Linked DNA regions of Homo sapiens. The protein of the gene in region 3 interacts with the protein of the main gene of each other region in a pairwise test. Each region holds a gene or a part of one and is shown on either strand. Other genes may lie near its edges.

What was found. Proteins that work in one complex are often made in the same cells at the same time.
Region 1: the proteins of CCDC88B (region 3) and CDK18 interact in binary tests that used the Homo sapiens proteins (3 or more experiments, as listed by UniProt).
Region 2: the proteins of CCDC88B (region 3) and TRAF3IP3 interact in binary tests that used the Homo sapiens proteins (3 or more experiments, as listed by UniProt).

Annotation. Positions count from the first base shown.
Region 1 is NC_000001.11:205,507,657-205,514,681, reverse strand, and holds part of CDK18 (cyclin-dependent kinase 18), read right to left. Parts: intron 2,366-7,025; exon of another isoform or gene 2,222-2,365; intron 1-2,221. UniProt on the Homo sapiens protein: May play a role in signal transduction cascades in terminally differentiated cells.
Region 2 is NC_000001.11:209,759,041-209,766,065, forward strand, and holds part of TRAF3IP3 (TRAF3-interacting JNK-activating modulator), read left to right. Parts: 5' UTR 1-94; intron 95-941; 5' UTR 942-999; coding exon 1,000-1,344; intron 1,345-3,474; coding exon 3,475-3,622; intron 3,623-3,772; coding exon 3,773-3,830; intron 3,831-4,027; coding exon 4,028-4,052; intron 4,053-4,322; coding exon 4,323-4,352; intron 4,353-4,451; coding exon 4,452-4,547; intron 4,548-7,025. UniProt on the Homo sapiens protein: Adapter protein that plays essential roles in both innate and adaptive immunity. Plays a crucial role in the regulation of thymocyte development.
Region 3 is NC_000011.10:64,343,200-64,350,224, forward strand, and holds part of CCDC88B (coiled-coil domain-containing protein 88B), read left to right. Parts: coding exon 1-126; intron 127-307; coding exon 308-416; intron 417-578; coding exon 579-715; intron 716-797; coding exon 798-1,958; intron 1,959-6,131; coding exon 6,132-6,259; intron 6,260-6,351; coding exon 6,352-6,469; intron 6,470-7,025. UniProt on the Homo sapiens protein: Acts as a positive regulator of T-cell maturation and inflammatory function.

The sequences.
Region 1 (7,025 bases), on a different chromosome or scaffold from region 3:
GCTTCATGATGACTTGTTTAAACCTCTTTCCTCTACAGATATGGAAACATTAGATCCCTCAAGGACAAAGACTGTATCTTAGTCACCTTTAAGATCCAGGACACACTGCCACGTGCAATAAATGTTGGTGCCTTTCCTTCCACTTTCAGGCAGGCCAGGGACCTGTTTCTAGGTGTATCTTCTCATTAGGCCATCTCCTGTCCTAGTTAGACTTGAGCATGATTGGGGTGGGCCTGGCCCTGTCCTCTTTCTGGGCACACTAGAGTAAGCCTAGACTGTCCAGTCACCCAGCCCCAGACTCCCCGGGGCATGCTTCCTCCTCAGTTTTCTTGGGTTTCAGAGGGAACAGGAATACAGGGATTGGTACCCAAGCAGATGGATGGGGGACTAGGGAGAAACCAACAACGTGCTACTCATCCTGCCATGGGGACCTCTGCATCTCCTCTAGCCCGAAACTCCACTGTCCCCAGCCAGGTGATGGTCCCTCTTCTGTGCTCCCACAGCTTTCTGACATCCCAAGGCAGGGCACTTGGCTCCCTGTCCTGTAACTGTTTACTTGTCATTTCCCTAGTTTGCCTGTGGGCTTTTTAAGGGCAAGCACTGTGGCGTGACTCGTCATTGCACCCCCAGAGCCTGACCCAAAGCCTGAGACAAAGTGAGCCCTCAAATGACCAGCAAATGAAATATGAAAGCTGGACTCGAGGCCTCAGCTGAAACCTGACCCTCTTCCTCTAGCCAGCATGTGGCCCAACAGCAGCGGGAGATGGGCTGAGGCAGTGGGGGCAGTGTCCTGCCCAGCAATTACTCCCCCAGTGAGGTCTGTGGAGGTTTTTGGGCTGGAGGCACCATCCTACAGTGAGGGGTGGACTGGAATGAGAAGAACCCGAATGAGAAGTTCCTCCTGCAACATGCATTGAGCTAGGGCCTCCAGGGCTGTGGGGAAGGGGTTCGGAGGGGCTTGTGGCCCTCTTCCTGGCTCTATCACTCAGGGAAGATTCTCAGAGCCTTGTAGGGCAGGTGCACTACTCAGGCTCAGATGTTGGCCTTGACCCCTACAGATGACCCTTTCTGACCCCACACGACCTCCTATCTAGCCCCTCTGTGTGGCTCCACTTCAGTCCTACTGATGTCCACCCTGCTGCTCTCTGGCTTCCTGAGGCTTAAGGAATAGAGGTGCATATTGCATCTTCTGGTATTTTCCTTTTGACCTTTTTTGGGGGCCCAGCTAAAGCTGGTCTGCACTCTCTGAGGAGGCTCAGGATGTCCAAGTGATAAGATGGGACAAGGAGCCCTTCTGTCAGTTCTGGTCCTGGGCGTACAGAACATCCCAGATCAGAGACCAGAGCAAGGGGCAAGGGCCAGGATAGGCCTGGCCTCCATCTCCCCCATCCTCCTGCCTCCAGAGAAAGCCCGCCTTACTCTCCCAGCCAGAGGAGCCCTCTCTGCTCCTTTTATCAGCCCTCTTTAAAGACACTCAAGGAAGGTCCTTCCCCAACTGTCCTGTGTTTTTGAGATCCCAAAGTCTGGAACCTTTCCTTAGGTCTTCCTTAAATACCAGAGGAAACAGCTTGTTTCCTCTCCACTTGCTCTGGCACAGAAACTGGTGCCTACCATCTTTTACACAATAAATTGGAGAAGAAAAGAAGAGTGTTGAGTTCACCCACCCAATAGCCCTCTCTCAGCCAGATATCCCGTGTCCAGCTCTCCTGCTGGCCTGTCATGGGACCTTCAGTCCTGTCTCTGGGTTTCTCTCCATGCCCAACTTTGGCAACAGAACTGCAGGGGCCTTTGAGCCTGGCATCCCTGGGGACCTCTCAGTCTCAGGAGGGGGAGGGAATGGGGAGGATTTCCCAGCATCTCTAAACCATATTCCTATTTATACTCCACCCCCACCAGCTGGCCCACGCCGCCCAGTGCCCACATTCTGACAAGAACCCCTGGCTGGTCGTCTCCAACTTTCCTCATTCCAATCTGAGAGACTAGCTTAAAAAAAGCAGCTTCATGTCACCGCCAAGAACTCCACTGGGCTCCTCTGACCAGCTCCCAGCTTCTGGTCACTTGGATTGCCCCGCCTCTCCCTCCTCACACTCCGCATGGCCTCCCTCCCACCAGGCTGGGCCCAGGAGGCCTCCTTGGCCTGCATGGCCTCCCCCAGGCCTCTGAACATCTCATAGTTGTTCAACTGTTCTCTAAATGTCTTTTATCAGTGTCACTCACTCACCAGGGTTCAGCCTCCTCAAAGTCACTCACTCATTTCACAAGCACCTGCTCAGCGCCAGGCACTGTCCTGGGCCCTGGGCCTCGGATTCCACTCCCTTTGGCTGCCTGGGTCTCCTCCTGCTTCTTCCTTCCTCCCGGGTCTGGTGGACTTACTTCCTCTACCTGTCCCTTGAATGTCAACACTCCCACAATTCTCTCTTTGGCCCTTTGCTCTTCCTCTCTGGGCATGCTTCCTGGGTGACCTCATCCCCTCCCGAAGTGGAAACCACCACCCGCGTGCTGATGACTCCAGATCTGTAGCCCTGGCCCCACCAAGCCCCTCAGCTCCAGATGCTTGGGTGCAGCTGCCTTCTGGGCACCCTGCCTGTGTGTCCCCCAAGGGTTCAGTTAGAGGTATGTGTGTGTGTGTTTTCTTTTGGAGACGGAGTCACCCAGGCTGGAGTGCAGTGGCGTGATCTTGGCTCAGTGCAACTTCTGTCTCCCGGGTTCAAGCAATTCTCCTGCCTCAGCCTCCCAAGTAGCTGGGACTACAAGCGCACGACACCACACCCAGCTAATTTTTTGTATTTTAGTAGAGATGGGGTTTCACCATGTTACCCAGGCTAGTCTCAAACTCCTGAACTCAGGTAATCCGCCCGCCTCGGCCTCCCAAAGTGCTAGGATTATAGGTGTGAGCCACCGCACCTGGCCAAGATGTGTTTTTAAGTGAAGAGGACAGATGTGTACAGTTTGTAAAAGCTGTACGTATGCAGGATATACACATGTGTCACAGGCATGCACATATAAACACAGCACACTGTTAGATAACCCAGAAGGTGGTAAGTCAAAACACCAGCAGTAGTTATTCCTGGGTGATAGAATTATGGGTGATTTTAATGTCTTCTTTTTGCTTATCTGCATCTTCTAATATTTCCATAATGAACATTTATTGCTTACATAAGAAGAAAATAGCAACACTTCTTTTTAAATGAAAAGAAAGTACTTTTAGATTGAGATCCTGGAGCAGTTTAGTGCAAGGCCTGGAGAGAACTATGATTATCTTGAGCAGGGGTCAGCAAACCTTTTCTGTAAGAGGCCAGACAGCCACTATTTTAGGCTTTGCGGGCCATCGTCTCTGTCGCCACTCTGCCACTCTGCCTTTGCAGCACAAAAGCACCCACAGGCAAGATGTAAATGAATGAGTTTGGCCTCACACCAGTAAAACTTTACTATGAACACTAACATTTGAATTTTATAAAATGTTTAAGGGTCACAAAACTTTATTTTCTTCTTTTGACTTTTTACCGACTGCTTAAAAATGTAAAAATCATTCTTAGCTCATGGGCCATACAAAAACTGTCGGGACTTGGCCAAGAGCCATGGTTTGCCAACCCCTAGCCTTGAGCATCCAGTGCCTGTGTAGTGTTTGAATCCAGCATCCATTTCTTTGCGAGGTAGTTGTTCTCCTCCTAATTGACAGGGCTGAGGCATTCCAGGATTTCCTTGCCCATCTCAGCATGGCAGGGACCAGGTACCCAGCCATCAGCTGGGGCAAGCCCCTGGCTCTACAGTTTGGAGGAACAGGAGGCTGAGCCCCTCTTGGGACCCCAGCACACAGCTCACCTTGTTAGCAGGACAGGCAAAAGTCGGAGCCTCAGACCAGCAGCCTCAGAGGGGCCTTTGGAAATCCCCTGGTCTGCACCCTCATGTTTCAGGCAAAGAAGGCAAGACTCAGAAAGGTGAGCGATCTGCCCGAGGCCACTGAGGGTGACAGGGCAGAGCTGGGACCACACTTTGGGCTTCTGACTTTGTGCAGGGTTGGAAGGGACTGCATGGGCCTGCGTAGAGATGGCACTCCCTTTATTGGTCACCACAGCCAAGAAAGTCACAGCATCCCCAAGGGCCACCTTCCTTGGGAAGGAGCCATGCCAGGTTTGGCACCCACACAGAACATGGCACCCAGCCCAGCCACGGCAGGGGATGCTGCCAGCTGGGCTCCACGGCAGGATCAGGGAGGGGCTCTGTGACCCCTTTCCTGGGCTCATCCCATGTTGCAGGCAGAGTTTGGGAGCCAGTGCTGCTTTGTCAAGAGTGATGCCCTCTAGCATAACACCTACCGCCCACCTGCTTCCAGGCAGTGGGTCCTGCCAGGATGTGGGAAGGACAGCCCTGTCACCTCCTGGGCTGGTCACCCCGCAGCCCAGGGTGCTGGGTGGCTGGGGCCAGAGAAGAGAAGAAGGTCTGGTTCCTGAGGAGACTCCCCAGGCAGAAAAGGGCAGGCTTCTTTAGGGAAGCAAGGTGTGAGGGCAGTAATCATTCTGGAGCTCTGAATTTCCCTCGATAATGATAAGATGGGGAACAGTGTTCAGAGTGAGGGAGGGTAGAAATTTTTTTTTTTTTTTTGAGACAAAGTCTTGCTCTGTCACCCAGTCTGGAGTGCAGTGGTACAATCCTGGCTCACTGCAACCTCTGCCTCCCTTGTTCAAGCGATTCTCGTGCCTCAGCCTCTGGAGTAGCTGGGATTACAGGTGCCTGCCACCATGCCTGGCTAATTTTTGTATTTTTAGTAGAGATGGGGTTTCGCCATGTTGGCCAGGCTGGTCTTGAACTCCTGACCTCAGGTGATCCACCTACCTCGGCCTCCCAAAGTTCTGGGATTACAGGTGTGAGCCTCTGTGCCTGGCCAGAAACATTTTAAGAATAGAGTTCTCTTCCCAATTTGGGGGCTGATCCCTGATGTTTGCAGGGACCCTGATTTCAGAAAAAAATATCAAGTGGGGCCAAAGGCACTGAGAACTACCAAATGTAGCCCATTAACTCTGCCACCACCCCTTGATAATGACATCAGGTAAAGCAAAGAGCTACTAGGTGGACATTATCTCACTGGAGTCCTCGCAATCACATGAGATAATAGTATTATCCTCCTATTTTATAAATGAGGAAACTGAAACCTGGGTGAGCAAATTACTTAACCTAAGGCAACCAGTTACTGAGTGGAAGAGGCAGAATCTGAACTGACCCCAAAGTCCATAAATTGCCTCCACCCATGGTGGACAGGAGACATACACTCAACATATAAATAATGATGAGTGCACCAGCCAGCCATTATTGGGTCATCTTGTCTATCCCGACTCCACCATTTCTAGGGAAGACTTTTATTTAATGGTGGGGGTAGGGAGGCTCAGAGGGTGGGACCATTATCAAGAGCTCCAGGAAAGAGGATCTCATCATAGTCCTTTCAAAAGTTCTGGCCCATGTCTCCCAGAGCAAGGTGTCCAGTCTCTTCAGGGTTACTCATGCTGTCAGGGAGCTTTGCTTCAAGACCCGTTTTTTGTTTTGTTTTGTTTTGTTTCTCGCCCAGGCTGGAGTGCAGTGGTGCGACCTCGGCTCACTGCAACCTCCACCTCCTGGGTTCAAGCGATCCTCCTACCTCAGCCTCCCGAGTAGCTGGGATTACAGGCACACGCCACCATGCCTAGCTAATTTTTGTATTTTTAGGAGAAACAGGGTTTCATCATGTTGGCCAGGCTGGTCTCAAACTCCTGGCCTCAAGTGATCCACCCGCCTTGGCCTTCCAAAGTGCTGGGATTACAGGCATGAGCCACCACACCCGGCCTAAGACCCTTTTCAATTTTTTTTTTGACAAGTTCTTGTTCTGTTGCCCAGGCTGGAGTGCAGTGATGCAATCATGGATCACTGCAGCCTCAACCTCCTAGGCTCAAGCGATCCTCCCCTCTCAGCCTCCCGAGTAGCTGGGACTACAGGCGCGTGCCACCACACCTGGCTAATTTTTGTATTTTTTTAGAGATGGGGTCTTGCCATGTTGCCCAGTCTGGTTTCGACCTCCTGGGCTCAAGCAATCCGCCCACCTCCCTTTTCAGTTTAAAACCAAACCTCACACTTGCCTCACTACCCCTCCTCCTCTGCAGATGTAGCTGTGGAGATTCTAGGAGCAGATGGGCTCTCTTTCAGACAGGAGGTCTGGCGGAGATGCGCCCACGGCTTTTCCTCTTCCAGACTTGCTGCTGAACCACTGGCCAGCTCCAGCCAGGCCCAGCTACCAGCTCTGTAGTGATCCTGGATCCCAGACCCTTGGCCTGAGCTGTTGTGAGCCCAGCCTGTGTGTGCATGTGCATGCAGCTGTGTGTGTGTAAGCAGCTGTGGGAGCCAGGACAAGATTAACCTTGGTCTGCTCCCACCCCCTGGATGTGGGAAAGTGCCCACTCAGCAGGGAATGCCTGGAGGGCAAAGGTGAAAAGTCCAGGGAAGGGGACGTAAGGGGTTATGGTGGGACACAGAGCCGAGGAAGAGAAATGTGACTTATTGCCAAAGGTGGGCTAATCAGGTGGGCCTGGAACCAGGCCAGCCACTCACCCTGAACAACAGAGCAGAACAGGGACTGCAATTAATTAAGTACCAGGGGAGGGTCCTCCTACCTCAGGGAAAGAAGGCGCTGCCAGAGGGCCCTCAGAGCAAGAGACTGCTGCCTCTCCAGCTCCCAGTGCCTGCCTCATTCATAACTGCCAGAAGGTAGGGCCCCCACAGCACAGATTCCTGGCCCCTCCTGGAAGATTTCCATCCAACCCATTCCCCTACCACCACCACCATTCTCTTACACAGAGCCCTCCTCCCTAACCTGGAAGAGCAGTAAAGATTCTGTCTAACTAAGGGCTTGGCCTGATGGGGCTGGGAAAATCTACCTTGGTCTCTAGACCAGCCCTGGTGCAATCACCAGGAAATTCCCTTTCCAAACAAGCACCACCAACCACTATAGCTACCAGTTATTTAGTCTCTGCTACATGCCAGGCACTGTGCATTATTTTTTT
Region 2 (7,025 bases), on a different chromosome or scaffold from region 3:
ATTGAGGTACAATTCATGTGCTTGTGGGTTTGGATGGCACAATCTGTGTCTGGGCTAAGGAAAGCAGACTTGGCACCAACATTAACCCTGACAGGTTGGTAATCCTAAAGAAATGGAACCCTCAGCCCCAACAGTATTGGAGCCAGATGCTCTGAAATGGGTTTTGGCCAGCACTAGGCATGTGGCAGATGCTCAGTCAATATTGATTGGACTTGATCTGCACCTGAGAGACACAGCCCAGTCCTGAGCTTGGAGTGGGGGGCCCATGGACCATTGTCAGGACAGCAGGTTGGAGGAATTAGGGTAGGGTTTCCCTCCTAAACCATGCCAGGTCCAGGCTCACAAGCTCGTTGCTAAAAGTCAAGAAGAGAGCAGTGGGTGCTGGTCACAGGACTGGTCACCACCTGAGGGGGTGTGGTTAGCCCTCCAGATCCTTGAGAAGTGTCACTCAACTATGTTAGTGACAGCTTGGACCAAGAGACCAGTAAAGATACTGACTTTCCTTTTCAACTGGGGGATAAGAGGGCAGATTGGCTCAACTTAGCTGCTTCTCTAGAAGTCTGGAAAATGAACACACACCTGCCATCCAAGAGGCTATAAGCTCATTATGATTTTAATCAATTATTTCTCATGTTCCCCTGACTCAGAGGCATGGTAAGATGTTCAGTCAAGGAGTAAGTGGCAGCCATAGAGACCCTTTTACTTTACAAAGGGGAAACATCGGCTAGAGAAAAGCAGGAATTCACTTTTATAAGACTGTATTAGTTCATTAGAGACTGAGCCCAAGAGTCCTGACTCCCACTTTGATACCACCATGTCCTCAGTTTTCAACCCACATGGATGGAACTCTGTGCTATTTCTGCCCCCTGGTCTAGGGAGATAGTCATTTTTCTGCCCATCTTCTGACCCCTCCCCTTCTCCTCCCTCTTGGCATTTGGCAGATCCAGGCATCTATTCCAGGAACTGGAAGCCAAGCGCAACAGGTGCTTGGAGGTCATCATGATCAGCCCAGACCCCAGGCCCTCCCCTGGCTTGGCCCGGTGGGCTGAGAGCTATGAGGCCAAGTGTGAGCGCAGGCAAGAGATCCGTGAAAGCCGCCGCTGCCGTCCCAATGTGACCACTTGCCGCCAGGTGGGGAAGACGCTGAGGATCCAACAGAGAGAGCAGCTCCAGAGAGCTCGACTGCAGCAGTTCTTCAGGAGGAGGAACCTGGAGCTAGAGGAGAAGGGCAAAGCGCAGCATCCCCAGGCCAGGGAGCAAGGGCCCTCCAGGCGGCCAGGACAGGTGACTGTCCTCAAGGAACCCTTGTCTTGTGCCAGAAGGATTTCTTCTCCCAGAGAGCAGGTGGGCCGTGTCAAGGGACATACTGCTGTGTGCTCTGGGACCCTCTCTGGACAAGGAGGGTGGGTGGGCTCAAGGTCACTAAAAAGTGACCTAAATCAAGTCCTTCTTCCTCAGTCATATAGTAAAGTTGCCAAGAGCTACTTATAGTAAAGTTGCCAACAGCTACTTATTCAGAGATTTTTGCTGTTGTGTTTTCGTTTGTTTAGCTCTTTTTGTTCTGCACTTGACTTATAAGAGAGAAAAAATAATTTTTAAAAACAATTTCAGGCTGGGCATGTTGGCTTATACCTGTAATCCCAGTACTTTGGGAGGCCAAGGCAGGAGGATCACTTGAGGCCAGGAGTTCGAGACCAGCCTTTTGATAGAGACAAGACCCTGTCTCTATCAAAAACTTTACAAACTAACCAGGCATGGTGGTGCACACCTGTAGTCCTAACTAATCAGGAGGCAAAGATGGGAGGATTACTTGAACCCAGGAGTTTGAAGCTGCAATAAGCTATGATCACACCATTGCACTCCAGCCTGGGCAAGAGAGGGAGACCCTATCTCTAAAAAACTTAAAAATAAAATAAATAAAAATAATTCCAAAGCTAATGCCTATATCAGTTCAAATTTAGGCAATATACACATGTCTTCTACAGCTATCTTACAGCATTCATTCATCCATCAGTCATCAAATATTTACTGAAAGCTTATTATATGCCAAGCACACAGGCCAGTCTTCTTGACACACACACAGACATATCTGTCCTCTTTTCTTCTGCAAGGCTGTTGTGCCCACTCTTCTCACTTCCTCTTGTGTCATTCCAATTCTATTAAATCACTTGACTATAGCCTCATCTGGTCCAGGAAGCTTTCCCTGGCTTCTCCAGGCCACCTCTGCTGTCTATGGGCCTTGTGAGGTTAAAATCTTCTAAGATTGTGTAACCCTTAGAGGGCCCATTAGTCTGGCCTGGAAAGGAACAATGTTGGCAAAAACCAGGGTATGCTGAGATGACCTTGGCCAGCAAACCATCTTCCTACTGAAGTTGTGAGCATGTTGACAGCAGGGATGTGTCCACTATGTTCCATGGTAATGCTTGGCATTGTTCCCTACCCAGAGTGGGTACTCTATCAGGGCTTCTTAACTAGTGGATCTGTTATGCTCAATAGGAGATGCTGTTCAGAGAAATGATCCTAGAGCCCAGTTGCAAAAGAAAAGGAACTGTATACTAAAGCAAAAAACCTTCCCACAACTCCCCACTTTACCTAGTCTTCACACAAAACCTCAATGATTTTCTAGCTGTTACTAAGAGAAAGGAGGCTTTCCTTTGAATATGGAAGGAACCTTATGGATTATCTATTCCAAACTCCTCACTACACAGACAGAAGACTGAGACCTAGAAAAGATGGGATCTGAACCCAGATCCCCTCACTCCCCACTCAGACCAGTTCTCTTTCCACATCACCATGCTGGCTATGTAAGTGGCCATAACCAAACAAGGTAGAGAGAGAAAAAAAAACAACAACTAGAGATTCTAGAGAGAAAACCTGGAGAAAAGTACAGCTCCACATATGCCTGGCCTGAGGAGGACCATTTCTGCCAGTCAGGACAAGGATATCAGGAGCAGGAGAAGCCTGTGTGGCTCTGAAAGCTTGAGTGGGCTACTTTGGTTTTGTGGATCTGAAACATTGTCTTCGTCCTGTAATGAATTACCACAGACTGGGTGGCTTAAATAACAGAAATTTATTTCTTACAATTCTGGAGTCTGGAGTTCTAAACCCATGGATTCTGCAGATCTGGTGTCTGATGAGAGCACTCTTCCCACTATGCAGATGGCCTTCTTCTCATTGTGTCCTCACAAGGCAGAGAGCAGAGAGAGAAAGCAAGCTCTCTCGTGTCTCTTCTAATAATGGCACTAATCCCATTCATGAGGGCTACCTGCTCTGACCTAATTATTTCTCAAAGTCTCCACCTCCTAATACTATCACATTGGGAGATAGGATTTCAACACACAGATTTGGGCGGGGGGACAATAAACACTCAGTCCATAACAAACATGATGGTTAGTTCTTCCTTCCGAAATCATCAGGAGAGTCTTTCAAGAGGCTCCAGGCAGTGGTTTTCAGCATTCCCCACTTGCCTTCCAGGTGACAGGCACCAGCTCTGAAGTCTTTCCAGCCCAGCATCCTCCTCCCTCAGGCATCTGCAGGGATCTGTCTGACCACCTCTCCTCACAGGCTGGGGGCCTTCCTCCACAGGACACTCCCATCAAGAAGCCACCCAAACACCACCGTGGTAAGAGCAGAGCCTCCCTCACTCCACAGGGCCTGCAGAGAATCCTGAGACAACTGTCCCAGCTCACTGGCAATGGAGAGTCCCTGTCCCTCCCCACTTCCCTCACTTCCTCCCTGTAAGTTCTAAATCAACTTATCCTCCATCTCTCAGGTACTCAGACAAAGGCAGAAGGACCAACAATTAAGAACGATGCCAGTCAGCAAACCAAGTGAGTTCCTGACCCTAACCCTCTCACATCCCATCCATTCCTCTCTAGAGAGAACACAATGAATTTCCATGTCCGCCTTAATTAAGAAAGAGGAAGCCCTTCCCCACCCTACTGGCTCTTCAGAAGGAATCAACCCACTGCCTCCTGACTTGATTCTTTGGTCCATTATCATTATTTTTAATTTCTTCTCTTTCCAGTTACGGAGTTGCAGTTCTGGATAAGGTAAGCACATATTCACTTTGAAGGGGTCAAATCAGAAAGTATTAAGCTCTGACATTCTGGAATTCCATGATAAACTTGGCTGGGATGGAGGGGCATCTTCTTCCTGGATGGCAAGGGGGTACTGAGCATAGACATGGGGACTAAAGGGACCCTGTCAGAGCCAAAGCAGAAGAGGTTTGCTCTACACAAGCCAGCCCAGGCTCTGGTTCTATATCCCAGGGTTTCAGGGGACTTACAGACATTTTGAATACCCTTGTTCTTTCTCTCCAGGAAATCATCCAGCTTTCTGATTACCTCAAAGTAAGTGGCATGTGACCCCTCCCCTCAGTTCCTCCATCCACTTACCCCCGATCCTCCAGGTTAATCTTACCCTCTTGCACTTTGTGCCCGCACCCCCAGGAGGCCCTACAAAGGGAGCTGGTCCTAAAACAGAAAATGGTGATTCTCCAAGACCTACTGTCCACTCTGATTCAGGCCTCTGACAGCTCTTGGAAGGTAAGGGAATGAAATTCTTTTTGAACAAAGCTTGGGCTTCTATGTGTTCCCATCTCATTTTTCTTTCCACATCATCACAGTAAGAGAAGGGGTTTTCTCACTACTGAAAAGTAAGCTGGGAAGAGGCAGGAGATGAGGGGGATGGTGCTCAGACCTAGAAGTCAAACAGGTCACAATAAATATATGGGTCATCACCTGAGGGTCATGGTGCTACATATCCAAGGAAGACCCAGAAACAAAAGTGGCAAGAATTCCCATTTTTTAATTTGTTGGAAGGAATGAAGGAAGATCCCAATATAGTTTACATTACTAAATATGCTAAATGTCAAATATTTTCATATGGGATTCCCACTGATATTTATCGAAACCAGCATGCCATGTACCCACTCAGTCCGAATAAAAATATCAGAGTGGGAAGGGACCTTAGAGACAATCTGGCCTAATACTCTCATTTTGCCCATGAGGAAACTGAGCTTCATAGGGGTCAAGTAACTTGCGAAAAGTCACACAGCTAGGTAGTGGCAGATCTGCAACTAAAATTCAGGCCTTTGATTTTAGTCCATTCAATGTACAATATTCATAGGTTATGTCCTCTATACAGAGCACTGGACTAGCACTAGAAATAATGAGATTATTTAGATAGGGTTCTTGCTTTGAGAAGGCTCACGGTTTTGTAAGAAAGACACATGACTAAACAATACAAAAACATGAAAAATAAAAGAAATGTTTTCAAGATATAGGAAAATACAAGAAGGAATGAGTGACTCCAGAGAAGAAAAGAGCCAGGGGAATACTTATATAAGCATTTGCCAGGAAAATATGGAAGAAGGAATAGTATTTTAGTTGGGGTACAGGCAAAGGTCTAAAGGCAAGGCCGGGGGTGGTGGCTCACACCTGTAATCCCAGCACTTTGGGAGCCCGAGGCGGGTGGATCACCTGAGGTCAGGAGTTCAAGACCAGCCTGGCCAACATGGCGAAACCCCGTCTCTACTAAAAATACAAAAATATTAGCTGGGTGTGGTTGCACATGCCTGTAATCCCAGCTACTCAGGAGGCTGAGGCAGGAGAATCGCTTGAACCAAGAAGGCAGAGGTTGCAGTAAGCTGAGATCACCTCATTGCACTCCAGCCTGGACAAAAGAGCGAGACTCCATCTCAAAAAAAAAAAAAAAAAATCTAAAGGCATGACACAGTCTAGTAAAATGGTTCTCCAATTTTTTTATTTCAGGATTCCTTTATACTTTTTAAATTATTGAAAATATATAAGAAATGTTTATATTTACCATACTAGAAATTAAAACAGTTGGCCAGGTGCCGTGCATCATGTCTGTAAATCCCAGCACTTTGGAAGGCTGATGCAGGAAGATCACCTGAGGTCAGGAATTAGAGACCAGCCCGGCCAACATGGCAAAACCCTGTCTCTACTAAAAATACAAAAATTAGCCAGGCGTGGTGGTGCACACCTGTAATCTCAGCTACTCCGGAGGCTGGGCCACGAGAATCGCTTGAGCCCAGGAAGTGGAGGTTGCAGTGAGCGATGATAGTGCCACTACACTCCAGCCTAGATGACAGAGCAGGACTCTGAGAGACAGGAGAGAGAGAGAGAGAGAGAGAGAGAGAGAGAGAGGGAGAGAGAGAGAGAGGAAGGAAGGAAGGAAGGAAGGAAGGAAGGAAGGAAGGAAGGAAGGAAGGAAGGAAGGAAGAAATTAAGATAGAAATTGAGAAAGAATTATTAATTTTAAAATAATGAGAGTAAAATTTTTCATGCTAACCTGAATTACATGTTTTAAGAAAAACAGTCTGGGTGCGGTGGTTCACACCTGTAATCCCAGACTTTGGGAGGCCAAGGCAGGTGGATCACTTGAGCTCAGGAGTTCAAGACCAGCCTGGGCAACATGGCAAAACCTCGTCTCTACTAAAAATACAAAAAATTAGCCAGGTACATTGGCATGCACCTGTAGTCTTAGGAACTCAGGAGGCTAAGGCAGGAGAATCTCTTACGTCCCAGGGGTGGAGGTTGCAGTGAGCCAAGACTGCACCACTGCATTCCAGCCTGGGCGATGGGAGTGAAACTCTGTCTCAAAAAAGAAAAAGAAAAAGAACCATATTTTCAAAAACAAAATTAGTGACAGGAGTATCATTGCTTTACACTTTTGCAAATATTTTTAATGTCTGGCTGAAAAAAAAGACAGCTAGCTTCTCAATTTGCTTCTGTATTCAATCTATTGGTTTAAACATAAAGAAAAATTCAGTTTCACACAAATATGTCATTAGAAAAAGTAAGACTTTGCTGATCCCTTAAAAGGGTCTTGGGGATTCCCAAGTTTCCTCAGAATCCCCATGTTGAAACCTGTAAATTAGTATGTACTATAAATTCATGTATTAATATGAGCTACAAGCAGCTTGACACCACCAAAGCATACCGCACCGGGTGGAAAGAGATGGAGCACACAACCTCACCGGCCTGTGTGACATCTCA
Region 3 (7,025 bases):
GTGCTGGAGGCGTCCAAGGCGCTGCTGGAAGAGCAGCTGGAGGCTGCCCGAGAGCGCTGCGCCCGGCTGCACGAGACCCAGCGCGAGAACCTGCTGCTGCGAACCCGGCTGGGCGAGGCCCATGCGGTAAGGTAGCCAGAGTGATCCCACTTGGGTTGCCCCGTCACCCCATGACCCCATTGATTCCCTAGTGGTCCCTAGTGATTCTTGCAACCTCTGCTCTTGGTGACCTCTAGTGACCCTCCGACCTACACACTCGGCCTGGCCATGGTGTGGAGGGCTTGTCTGACCCTTCCCTCACCCCCAGGAGCTGGACTCTCTGCGGCATCAGGTGGACCAGCTGGCTGAGGAGAATGTGGAGCTGGAGCTGGAGCTTCAGCGGAGCTTGGAGCCACCTCCAGGATCCCCTGGGGAGGGTGAGGGACCCCACTGGAAGGGCTGGGGTGGGGGCTTCCTATGCTTTCCAGCAGTGTACTGGGGAGAGCCTCTGACTCCCTCCCTTCTCCCAAGCCTCTGGGGTGTGTATGTGAGGAGCCAGGCAGTAAAGGAGGGGTCCTGACCTCATCTCTCATCCTCAGCACCCCTAGCAGGAGCGGCCCCCTCGCTGCAAGATGAGGTGAGGGAGGCAGAGGCTGGGCGGCTTCGGACCCTTGAGAGGGAGAACCGGGAGCTTCGGGGGCTGCTTCAGGTGCTTCAGGGGCAGCCAGGGGGCCAGGTAAGTCCCCTCCCCCAGGGTCCTGGCCGGCCCTTCCCCTAGTCCCTCCCTGGGCCTGACTGTCCCTCTCGTATGCCCTCAGCACCCCCTGCTGGAGGCACCGAGAGAGGACCCTGTTCTTCCAGTGCTGGAGGAGGCTCCCCAGACTCCTGTGGCCTTCGACCACAGCCCTCAGGGCTTGGTTCAGAAGGCAAGGGATGGAGGCCCCCAGGCCTTGGACTTGGCTCCCCCGGCATTAGACTCAGTGCTCGAGGCATCAGCTGAGTGTCCCCAGGCACCTGATTCAGACCCACAGGAGGCAGAGAGTCCCCTTCAGGCAGCTGCCATGGACCCCCAGGCCTCAGACTGGTCCCCGCAAGAGTCAGGCTCTCCTGTGGAGACACAGGAGTCCCCGGAGAAGGCTGGCCGTAGATCCTCTCTCCAGAGCCCTGCCTCTGTGGCCCCACCTCAGGGTCCAGGGACCAAAATTCAGGCCCCGCAGTTGCTGGGAGGAGAGACAGAGGGAAGAGAGGCTCCCCAAGGCGAGTTGGTGCCTGAGGCCTGGGGGTTGAGACAGGAGGGCCCTGAGCACAAGCCAGGGCCTTCGGAGCCCAGCTCTGTGCAGCTGGAGGAGCAGGAGGGCCCAAACCAGGGCCTGGACCTGGCCACGGGACAAGCAGAGGCCAGAGAGCATGACCAGAGGCTGGAAGGGACGGTCAGGGACCCAGCCTGGCAAAAACCACAGCAGAAGTCAGAAGGGGCTCTTGAGGTCCAGGTCTGGGAAGGCCCAATCCCAGGGGAGAGCCTGGCCAGTGGTGTCGCAGAGCAGGAGGCCCTCAGGGAGGAGGTGGCACAGTTGAGGAGAAAGGCTGAGGCCCTTGGAGATGAGCTGGAAGCCCAGGCCCGCAAGCTGGAGGCCCAAAACACGGAGGCTGCCCGCCTCTCCAAGGAGCTGGCCCAAGCGCGAAGGGCAGAGGCCGAGGCCCACCGGGAGGCAGAGGCCCAGGCCTGGGAGCAAGCCCGGCTGCGGGAGGCAGTGGAGGCTGCTGGCCAGGAGCTGGAGTCTGCGTCCCAGGAACGGGAGGCGCTGGTGGAGGCGCTGGCAGCAGCGGGCCGGGAGCGGAGGCAGTGGGAGCGTGAGGGGTCCAGGCTGCGGGCCCAGTCGGAGGCCGCCGAGGAACGGATGCAGGTGCTGGAGAGCGAGGGCCGCCAGCACTTGGAGGAGGCTGAGAGGGAGCGCCGGGAGAAGGAGGCCCTCCAGGCGGTAGGTCAGGTTGGGGCTCACCGCTGGGGTTGGGAAGCAGAGTTCCAGGCTGTTGGGAGTTACTGATTCCATCAGCAGCTGTTCAGTGGGTGCCCAGCACTGAGCTGGGGCTGGAGATAGAAAGGCCAAGTCCACCCCTGCCTTCCAAAGGTGTGCCTGGCCTGGGGCACAGAGCCATGTCCACTGTGTGATGGGGGCGCTGTGGGAGGGGGTGGGACTGCCTAGTACACATCTTGGCTCTCTGGCTGCAGCAGTAGACTCACCTCCACCCCAGGCATCCTTCTGTAAAACAGGGGTACTATTCCTGGCCACCTGGGGTGGTCTTAGGAGGACCTTGGGAGACAGTAGCTGTAAAGGTCTGGTTCATGCTGGCAAGGGTATGTTGTAAGTGTTCAAGCACTGGTTATTCAGAGCCAAGTGCTACGAGAGCCCATGGGAGGGTGAGCTGATGCCCAAGTGGAGGCAAGGAGGCTTTAGGAGGAGTGACCATAATGTCACTAGGTGGGGAGGACATTTTGTCCAGAGGGAATGGCATGTGCAAAGACAAAGGCATTAAAGACGCTCAGGGGCTGGGTGTGGTGGCTCACACCTGTAATCCCAGCACTTTGGGAGGCCGAGGTGGGTGGATTACTTGAGGTCAGGAGTTCTATACCAGCCTGGCCAACATGGTGAAACCCTGCCTCCATTAAAAATACAAAAATCAGCCAGGCGTGGTGGCAGGCACCTGTAATCTGTTACTTGGGAGGATGAGGCAGGAGAATTGCTTGAACCCGGAAGGCGGAGGTTGCAGTGAGCTGAGATTGTGCCACTATACTCCAGCCTGGGCGACAGAGCGAGACTGTCTCAAAACAAACAAACACCATCCAATGAAACAACAACAAAAAAAGAATGCTCAGGGCCCAGGAGGAAGGGATGATGAGGGCCAGCTTTGAATGTGTTGGTCCTCCCTCCCCAGGCAGGGAAAGCCAGGGTAGAACTGTGTGGGGCTGCGCTTGAGGAGGGTCACCTTGGTGGACAGGGGAGCTTGGGGCTATCAGGACGCAGTAGCCATGGTGTAAGTGGCAGAGGAAGCTGACTAGGGAGGCATGGGAGTGGGTGTGAGAGGAGGACTGGACACTTTTTTCTTTTTGAGACAGAGTCTCCCTCTGTTGCCCAGTCTGGAGTGCAGTGGGGTGATCTTGGTTCATTGCAACCTCCGCCTCTCAGGTTCAAGAGATTCTCCCACCTCAGCCTCCTGAGTAGCTGGGAGTACAGGCACACACCACCACGCCTGGCTACTTTTTGTATTTTTTTTTTTTTTTGAGACGGAGTCTCGCTCTTTCGCCCAGGCCAGACTGCAGTGGTGCTATCTCGGCTCACTGCAAGCTCCGCCTCCCAGGTTCACGCCATTCTCCTGCCTCAGCCTCCGGAGTAGCTGGGACTACAGGCACCCGCTCCCGCACTCGGCTAATTTTTTGTGTTTTTAGTAGAGACGGGGTTTCACCATGTTAGCCAGGATGGTCTCGATCTCCTGACCTCGTGATCCACCCGCCTTGGCCTCCCAAAGTGCTGGGATTACAAGCGTGAGCCACCGCGCCCGGCCAATTTTTGTATTTTTAGTAGAGATGGGGTTTCATCATGTTGGCCTGGCTAGTTTCTTTCTTTTCTTTTCTTTTCTTTTTTTGAGACAGAGTCTCCCTCTGTCACCAGGCTGGAGGCGTGATCTCGGCTCACTGCAACCTCCACCTCCCAGGTTCAAGCGATTTTCCTGCCTCAGCCTCTCGTGTAGCTGGGACTACAGGTGCATGCCACCATGCCCAGCTAATTTTTTGAATTTTTAGTAGAGACAGGGTTTCACCATGTTGGCCAGGATGGTCTCAATCTCTTGACCTTGTGATCTGCCCGCCTCGGCCTCCCAAAGTGCTGGGATTACAGGCGTGAGCCACCGCACCTGGCCAACACACTTTTACTTATTCATTTAAACATGTTTACAGGCATCTTCTTGGTGCCAGGCCCTGTACCAGGCTCTGGGCACACAGCAGTGACCACGAAGCTAGCAATCCAGTGTTTGGGCGTGGCTTCAGCTTCCTTCCAAGCTAAGGAAGGGGTTAGGGCTTTTGCCATGGGGGATTGGGCAGCCACTGAAGGCTCCCCAATGGGCAAAGTGAGCAAAGTGGTCAGGTCTGCGTGTGAAAAGGCGCGAGGAAGGGTGTTTGGGCCAATGGGCCCCAGTGCTAGGGGACCTGTGAGATTGCAACACAGGTAGGAACTGAGTCATCCTGCACAGGCAGTTTCCAGTCCCATTTCTGTACAGACAAGGACCCTGAAATTCAGGGAGGAAGAGTAATTTGCTCAGAGACCCATTATGAGGATGGGGGGTGGGGAGAACACTGCTGGGTAGACATGGGGTCAGGCGTTGTGCAAGACAGGCCCAGGGTAAGGGGGTTCTGGCGAATGTGAGAGGGAAGGTGAGAGACCATCTCTGGGGTCCACTCTGTGGGGTGTGGCTGAGATGCTGTCTAGCCGGGCGACCTGCCTACTTTCCAGCTGTGTGGCTTGGGGCAAGTTACTTAACCTCTCTGAGTCTCAGTTTTCTCACTTGTAAAACTGGAATAAAAATTGTACCTGCCTTGGCTGGGCACAGTGGCTCACACCTGTAATCCCAGCACTTCGGGAGGCTGAGGTGGGCGGATGACCGGAGGTCAGGAGTTCGAGACCAGCCTGGCCAACATGGCAAAACCCCAACTCTACTAAAAACACAAAATTAGTCGGGTGTGGTGGCACGCACCTGTAATCCCAGCTACTCGGGAGGCTGAGGTAGGAGAATTGCTTGAACCCAGGAGGCAGAGGTTGCAGTGAGCCAAGATCGCGCCACTGCAGTCCAGTCTGGGTGACAGAGCAAGACTCCGTCTCAAAAAAAAAAAAAAAAAAAAAAAAATTGTACCTGCCTCACAGGATCCTGTAAGATAATGAGCGTAGGGAGCTTGGGGCAATGCCTGGCACCTAGAATGGACCTGTTCCATGGGAGGGAATGGCAGCAGGTAGGCAGTGAAGGTGAGGGTAGGGCTGGCGGGCTGGAAGAGCCGGCTCCAAGGACTGAGAGGGTGGGGGAAGCTAGGGACAAAGGGGGAATTTTGTGAGATTTCCTGGTTGGAGCAGGAGAAGGTGGCTGGCCAGGGGGAGGTCAGGGAACCAGGGGGTCTCAGGTTGTCCACTGGGTGGGGAAGCCTCCCAGGCTTGGGGGAGGGGGTTCTAGGAGGGCTGTGGCCAGGGCCCGGAGGAGGGCAGGGCAGGGGCTGGGCGGGAGGTTCTATTCACCGTGCCTCCTACCCCAGTACTTGCGCTAGTGGCTGTCAGCCAGCCAGGCAGCAGTGCCTCATCGGACTTGTAGTTTTTCAGGGAGAGGTGGTGGCCAAGAGTGTCAGGAGGTGCAGTGCCCCTTGGGCAAGGCCTAGGTGCAGTTATTAAGCCAGGAAGGTAGTTTTCAGCAGCAAGGCTTGTAGGCTTGGTTTCCAAGGCAGGATTTGGCTGGCAGCTGGTCATGGGCAGCTGTCCCCGAAGCTTCATCCTGCCAGGCCCCCCATGTGGCAGAATGGTTTGGTCTCCCTCCCTCTGGGGCACACAGGCCAGAATGGGCCTCCCGTCTCCTTCCAAAGTGGTGCAGCCCAACCGCCAAAGGCCACAGGTCACCTAGCTGGCAGCATCCTGGCGCCCCCTGCCCCCCCAGCCCCCACTGTCAGCTCCTGACTTCCTGTCCCTCCAGCCCTCCGTGGCCTTTTCCCTGTAGCCAAGGTCTCTCACCCGACCCACCTCTGCTGAGCCTCTCTAGCTGTCTCGCTGTCACATGGCTGGGGTGGCAGCCCACCGGGCGCATCCACCTTTCACTGCGCACATGAAGAACCGTGGGCTCAGAGAGGTGACGGCACTTGCCCAACATGTGTCACCTACCGACTCCCAGCCCAGGGGCCTTCCTCATGCCCTGCCAGGCTTACAACACCCAGCTCTTTCATGCCCAATTTCAAGGGCCCCAGGCTTTGCTCCCATTTTATAGATGGGGAAGTAGAGCCCAAAGGCTTAATGATACGTGCCCAGGATGGCAGGTCAAGGACAGAAAGGCAGCTCTCTTGACTCTCAGGCCTCTGTCTCCGGCTGTCTCCTGCCCCCTTGCCCTGAGCCTGCTCTGCTTGCCCTCAGGAGCTGGAGAAAGCTGTGGTGCGGGGCAAGGAGTTGGGGGACCGGCTGGAGCATTTGCAGCGTGAGCTGGAGCAGGCGGCTCTCGAGCGCCAGGAATTTCTGCGAGAAAAGGAAAGCCAGCACCAGAGGTGGGGACAGGGCTGAGGGGAAGAATGAGGGAGGCAGGGGTGTGGTGGGGCGAGGGTGGGGTGGGGCTGGGTGCTAAGGATTCTCCTGGCAGGTACCAGGGCTTGGAGCAGCGGCTGGAAGCTGAGCTGCAGGCGGCGGCGACCAGCAAGGAGGAGGCGCTGATGGAGCTCAAGACCAGGGCCCTGCAGCTGGAAGAGGAGCTGTTCCAGGTGATGCCTGCCCGCCTGGGAGCTGGGGGCCATGCCACCCTGCCCTCCATCCCATGAGCAGATGCCAGGGTCATCTGTCCTCCTAGTCTTGCCTCTGGATTCTTGGCTAGCTACTTGCCTCACTCCCCATGTGGGGCCTGTTGGAGAGAGCACTGTGCTGGGAGTCAGGTGGCCGTGTTGACTTATCTGGGGTCTCATTTTCCCCATTCTGCACATGGACAGAACTTCTGCTGTGGATGACTGCTCCGCCTGTCTCACCCGAGGTCCTCCACTGCCTAGGGAGCTCAGTGTTTGGCATCAAGGAAGCCAGCGATGGTTTCTGATACCCAGGCTGTGTGCGGGCTCCACACGGAGGGTGGGGTGGTGGTGGGGCCCAATCCCAGGCTGCCATCCTCAGGGAGCTCACAGGACAGTCAGGATAGAGGCAAGAAAACAGGTGACAATAACTAGGTGCCAGGGGCTGTGAGGAGGCCATGCAGGGGCTTGGGAGGGTGGTACCCAGCAAGATACCCAGCAGGTGCATGCGAGTCTATCAGGGAAGGTTTTGTGGAGAAGG